2 separate regions of the Homo sapiens genome follow, and region 1 is linked to region 2. Evidence: fine-mapped expression QTL. A gene starts in region 2. The other region holds a variant in brackets. All regions are shown on one strand. Distances are between the middles of the regions. Region 1 overlaps ARMCX5-GPRASP2 (ARMCX5-GPRASP2 readthrough). Region 2 holds the start of GPRASP3 (G protein-coupled receptor associated sorting protein family member 3).

What was found. PIP is the estimated chance that this variant, and not a neighbour inherited with it, causes the effect.
Region 1: its variant is the best candidate, but not a certain one, in a credible set for the expression of GPRASP3 in lung (TOPMed, PIP 0.53).

What each region holds. Positions count from the first base shown.
Region 1 is chrX:102,697,855-102,700,777 of GRCh38, forward strand. All of the region lies in intron 4 of ARMCX5-GPRASP2 (ARMCX5-GPRASP2 readthrough), which reads left to right. Among named protein-coding and RNA genes, the nearest start is that of GPRASP2, 13 kb to the right of the region's middle. The variant G/A (reference allele first, on the strand shown) is at 1,546.
Region 2 is chrX:102,719,480-102,722,402 of GRCh38, forward strand. It overlaps GPRASP3 (G protein-coupled receptor associated sorting protein family member 3), which reads left to right and starts at 1,264. Exons shown (of 4, transcript NM_001142524.2): 1 at 1,264-1,346; 2 at 1,478-1,612. ARMCX5-GPRASP2 (ARMCX5-GPRASP2 readthrough) reads left to right here. Exons shown (of 19, transcript NR_146584.3): 7 at 1,055-1,342; 8 at 1,478-1,612. RefSeq lists an enhancer at 1,071-1,130.

The DNA.
Region 1 (2,923 bases), 22 kb before region 2:
TATTCATACAATGGAATAATTTTCTGCAGTAAGAAGCAATGAAGTACTAATAAATGCTACAGCAGGGAAGAGCCTTATGCTAAGTGAAAGAAGTCACAAAGAACCATTGTAGTCAATTCCTATAATTTCATGTTGCTCTGGCATCCACCCTAGATATAGGGTTAACCTTCTAACTTTCTCATACCAAAGGCAGGGCCTAATCACCTAATTCTCCACTTCCTCCCACTTTTTCAATGTGGTCAATCCAGATATCTGCCTTACACAACAGATATCCACCACCCTCTCGGACAGAGAGATATAACCTACTTGACTTGCCCCACTGACCCTCATACCCAACATGGACAATGCAAATATGCCACAGTGATCACCTCTCAGTGATGGTGTGACCTCCTGGAACTCATCCCTACTTGCTTCAAACTCACCAGTTTGAACTCCTCATAGGAAACATGTTTGGGTAATGGCTTTGATCACAATAAAGGCCCAGCCTGCAGGTCTGTCCCACTCAACACCCATTGGTTACGCATCCTGCTGTCTTCAGACTTCTCATCAGCCCTTGTGGGCAACCCTCTTCTCTTGTAGATCTGAGTAATAAAAATATTTTGCATTTCATGTGTTTCGTTGTGCTGTCTTCTCTGTGCCTCATTTGACTTACACAACCAAACCTAACTATCCTCCTGGTCAGGGCTCTCCTTGCAAGTGGCTGTCTTAGCAGGGATAAACTGGACACAGGTCAAACAAGAGCCACAAGGGTATCTGCCAGTATAAACAAGTTTTCAGTGAGAGGGACACCTGGTCATAGGTTGGACACTTAGGCATTAGGCTGTCTGCCAGGACGAAGTATCCTGTGAAAAGCACACTGTAAACATTGAAGACCACCTTCCTTAGAGCCCCATTCAGCGCAGGGCTGGAATTTATAGCCACTCTCCAGACAGAGACCTCAAGACCAAATTAGAAAAAAAATCATAACAATAAAAATCACAACAACTACATATTAAATGATTCCTTTTATATGAAAAATCCAAAATAGACAAATTTATAGAGACAGATGAATTGTTGCCTCTGGTTTGGGGGTTAGGGCAATGCAATCTGACAACTAAGGGACAGAGAGTATCTTCTTGGGCTTAAAAATGTTACAAAATTAATTTTGGTGATGAATGCACAACTCTAAGTGTATTAAAGTCTTTGAATTGTACATTTTGAATTGGTGAATTGCATGGTATATGAATTGTATTTTAATAAAGCTGTTTTAAAGTATTTTAAACAGGCTGGGCACAGTGGCTCACGCTTGTAATCCCAGCACTTTGGGAGGCTGAGGCGGGCAGATCACGAGGTCAGGAGATCGAGACCATCCTGGCTAACACGGTGAAACCCCATCTCTACTAAAAATACAAAAAAATTAGCTGGGCACGGTGGCGGGCACCTGTATTCCTAGCTACTCAGGAGGCTGAGGCAGGAGAATGGCGTGAACCCGGGAGGCGGAACTTGCAGTGAACTGAGATTGTGCCACTGCACTCCAGCCTGGGTGACAAAGCGAGACTCTGTCTC[G/A]AAAAAATAAATAAATAAAAAATAATAAAATAAATAATAAATATTACAATAAAATAAAATATTATAAACAAGTCAAAAAACAGCATATACTGGAAACACTAGTTACAACAGATATGGCAATCTACAGGCTCATTTTGTGAGTTAACAAAGACATAATATAAATCAATGGAGTGAATATCCCAATGGAAAGCTGAGTAAGTAAATAATTAGTTCACAGGAAAGAAAAAAGGTTTGTAGTACTCAACAAATAGATTTGGGACTTTTGTTAATTATTACTATTGTTAACCAAGATTTCCTGCAGTCCAATTTTCAGACTCTTAGCCTTGCACTTCCCTACACCTTTGAGCACAACAATGGCCATGTAAGTTGCTTCGGTCAATACAATATTCAAAAAGATTTTTGTCAGTTCTGGCAGGAAACTTTTAAGAGCCGCTGTGAGATTTGTCATGATCGGTCTTTTCCTACGTCATGGTAGCCAGCAATGTTTCAGATCATAACTGTTGCGTTTAATCCTCATGAGTAAAGCTCCCAACAGACGTGTTAGACATGTAATATGAACAACAAATATATTTTTGTGATTTTTTTTTGAGACAGAGTCTCACTATGTTGTCCAGGCTGGAATGTAGTGGCGCAATCTTGGTTTACTGCAACCTCTACATCCTGGGTTCAAGTGATTCTCTTGCCTCAGCCACTCGAGTAGCTGGGATTATAGCTGTGCGCCACCATTCCTGGCTAATTTTTGTGTTTTTAGTAGAGATGGGGTTTAGCCATTTTGGCCAGGCTGGTCTCAAACTCCTGGCCACAAGCTATTTGCCTACCTTAGCCTCCCAAAGTTCTGGGTATTTTGGTTATTTTAAGTTGCCCAGATTTGGGGACCATTTGTTACGGCAATGTAATGTAGCACATCGTTATTGATAGGCTCCCTCACAATTGTAGAACACATTAAAATAATAGTATTCCATTTTTTACCTTTCATATGAACAAAAATAAAAGTTGGATAATTCCCAGTACTGACAAGGTGTTTCTGAAACAGACAGTTTCATTTTTAAAAAATATTCTTTTATTCATTGAGAAATAAAAATTGTATATATGTATGATGTCCAACATGATGCTTTGATATATAGATACATTGTGGAGTGACTAAATCAAGCTAATTAACACATCTATTCCATCTCATGAGTTTGTCATAAATTAACGAATCCCCTATACTCATATATTTAGGTTATATCTGTTTTTTCCTACTATAAACAATTCTGTAAGGAACTTCTCTGTGGAAAATTTCTAGTACTAAATGATACATTTCACTCGTGTATTTTTTATTTGTGTCAGCCCAGTTATAGTTCTTGCCCTATTTCACCCAGTAAGATTACCTGGGTGA
Region 2 (2,923 bases):
TGTTAAGTTTAATATTAGTCTGTTCATGGTACAAAAATGGCACCTTTTTCACATAATTATTACCGTAAAAAACATAACATTTCCTTTTGAGGTGACAACAAAGTTCTGGAGCTAGATAGTGGTGATGGTTGTACAACATTGATAATGTACTGGGTTGTATACTTTAAAATGGTTAAAATGTTAAATTTTATGTTATGTGTATTTTGCCACGATAATTTAAAAAATGACCACACAATACCTTCAGTCAGGAGAATTGGAAGACAGGGCTATATGTTGGTTTGGAGAGGAAATTCAGACGTACGAGAAATATCCAATGTTTTATTATTTTTAGACATAACATTTATTTGTCTGAGAATGTTCTAAATTTTCAAAGGTAAAATTACAATTCATGTAAATGTAAAAAGAATATGTGAAAGATTTTTCAACACAATCAACAACTGCTAGGATTAAGAAAACAGTTGAAGGGTATATGTGTATATACAATATACACAATATGAAGATATAAACAAAACATTGAATTTCATAAACACATAGGAAATTAATAAATGTTAGAATAACACTGCCAGGTTAAATATAAAACGGGTTAATATCTTACAGGGCAATAAATTGTAACATTTAAGGTTTTCTATTGCACTGGACATAAATCATTTACATATTTATTGAATAAAATATCTACATGTTAACATCAGTGTCTACAGAGTTGAAAAATAGGTAAATCAATAGACATCCTGCACTGCCCTGAAATGACATCCAGTAACTGAAGGTGACTTTATCTAAGTTTGGTATAATTTTTCTGACAGTGCAACATGCTTTTTTTCCCCACCTGATCCTAGTTTGGTAAGGTAATATGGAAGTGGCAGTTTTGCCTCCCATCGCAAGCCATAAGTTTTAACAGGGATTATCCTGGTGGTGCAAATTGGAGTTTGAATGTTTGTTTTGCTTACCAGCATTTTTCAAGACAGATCTGTGTGTGTTTTAGTATGTCGCTTGAGTCGTATACAAAATATTAAAAATCACTTCATTTCCCAAATCCTCATCGAATGTTCCTCGCCAGCCGAGTGGTCCTCCAGAGCAAAGGCCAGCCTTCCTTCCAGCTGTCTGGCCAAGGAGCTTCAGGATCTTCTAGCAAGCACCCCAGAGGCAGAAGACTGTCATCCATGGTACAGGACTGCGGCGAACAAGCTGACTGCGCAGTCACGTGGGGCTGACGGTGGGTCATGTGACCAGGCTCTGCATTAGGCCTGCCGAGAGGAGTGTTTTCTTGCATCCAGAAAAGACCTGAGAGGCGGACGACACCTGTGCTCCGCAGAGCAGAACGTGGGAGGAACGGCGGGATGTTAAGGTAGGTAGGTGTCTTTCCATGCTGCATCAGCCTGAAAACTAATTTCTCAGGCGACTGGAACTACAGCATTTGTTGGTAAAGGAAACAATCCGTCAGCCAACCGGGAGCGTCTTAGCCCGTCTGTCTTTTGTCCAGGAGCTCAAGAAGCAGAGAGTCTACCTGCCCGACGCGTTCGTGGAGAGGAGCAGCGGTTGCTGTTGGAGGAGGTGGGTGCAAGGACGGCAGATGGCATCCCTGAGAGGTGGTGACTGAGACTAGATGCGGGTGCAGGTAATGCCTCAGATCCGCCTGCTCCCTCCTGCCTTTTGAACACCCTTGACCCCTCATCCCAAGGCTCCCAGCCCAGTGCCCTGTGTTTGTATGTGTGGGTGGGGGAGGTGGGCATATGGATGGAGTTGGCTTCAGGGGAGCCCAGAGCGGGGAAATGGTGAAGTGACAATTCGTGAACACCTGTGGTGCTGGATCAGGAAAGGCAGGGGTGGGGATGGGAACCGTGAGCTATGCGTCCGCACTCATTCTACTCTCTGTCTTCTTACTGGCAGTATTCAGGCAGTGGGGATGGCTGATACCAGCTCAAAACTGGCGGAGGGTGGAGGAGGGCAGAAGAGAACACATACATCTGCCTTTTGCTCCAAGGCTCCAGCTGGCTGGGGATGCAAGAGAGGAATGAACCTCAATCCCGGCAGTTCTAGGAAAAGGAGGAGGAGACATAGACTCGAGGGGAGGAAACCTAGATGCTGTGGGCCCTTCACCTAGGATTTCTCATTAGGATACTCCAAGCTTCTCGACCCCCAAGGGGATTCCTGGATCTCAGCCCCATGCAGCAGGATCTCATTCCCATTGAGGGACACAAAGTGGGTTGCTACTCCGTGTGAGCTCTCTCTCCCTGCTGTCTTGGGCCTCAGAGGAGGGTCTTTCTGGGGACCACCTACAGAAACTGCTTCATGGATAGTCTCCTAAGTTTCCCTCTGCATACCCTTTGCTCTCTTGTGTTGTGATCTCTGCTCATTCCTTAGGATGTGTTTCTTTGGTCCCATCCTAGGTAGCAGCCCCATGGTAAGTCCTTGTCCTCTTTCACATCGAGTATCCTCCTTTCCCCCTACCCCATGCACCCACTGGGTACCAAGTGAAAGAAAATGGTTCCTCTACCCACAATACTTCTGGCACAGAATGTGTGGATTTTTCACACCAAGCAATTCTCTTATTCTTTGAGGACATCAGCTAGGTATTCTACAATTTAATTCAATTCTGATACTACCCAGAGTTAGTGCAGACCTCTCTGGTTAAGGGCTCATTCCCATAAGACTGCCCTCCCTCACTTCAGACAACAGTCACAAGTAATGGATCTCCATGTCACCCACACTTCTGTCTGACTTAGCTACTAGTTGGAAGTTCCCACAACCCCCTCCTCAGGTTCAATAATTTGCTATAAGGGCCCACAGAACTCAGGGAAACACTACTTCCTATTACTGGTTCATTATAAAGGATATAAATCAAAAGCCAGATGAAGAGGTACATATGGCAAGGTCCAGAAGGGTCCCAAATGCAGAAGCTGCCATCCATGTGGATTTGGGGTACACC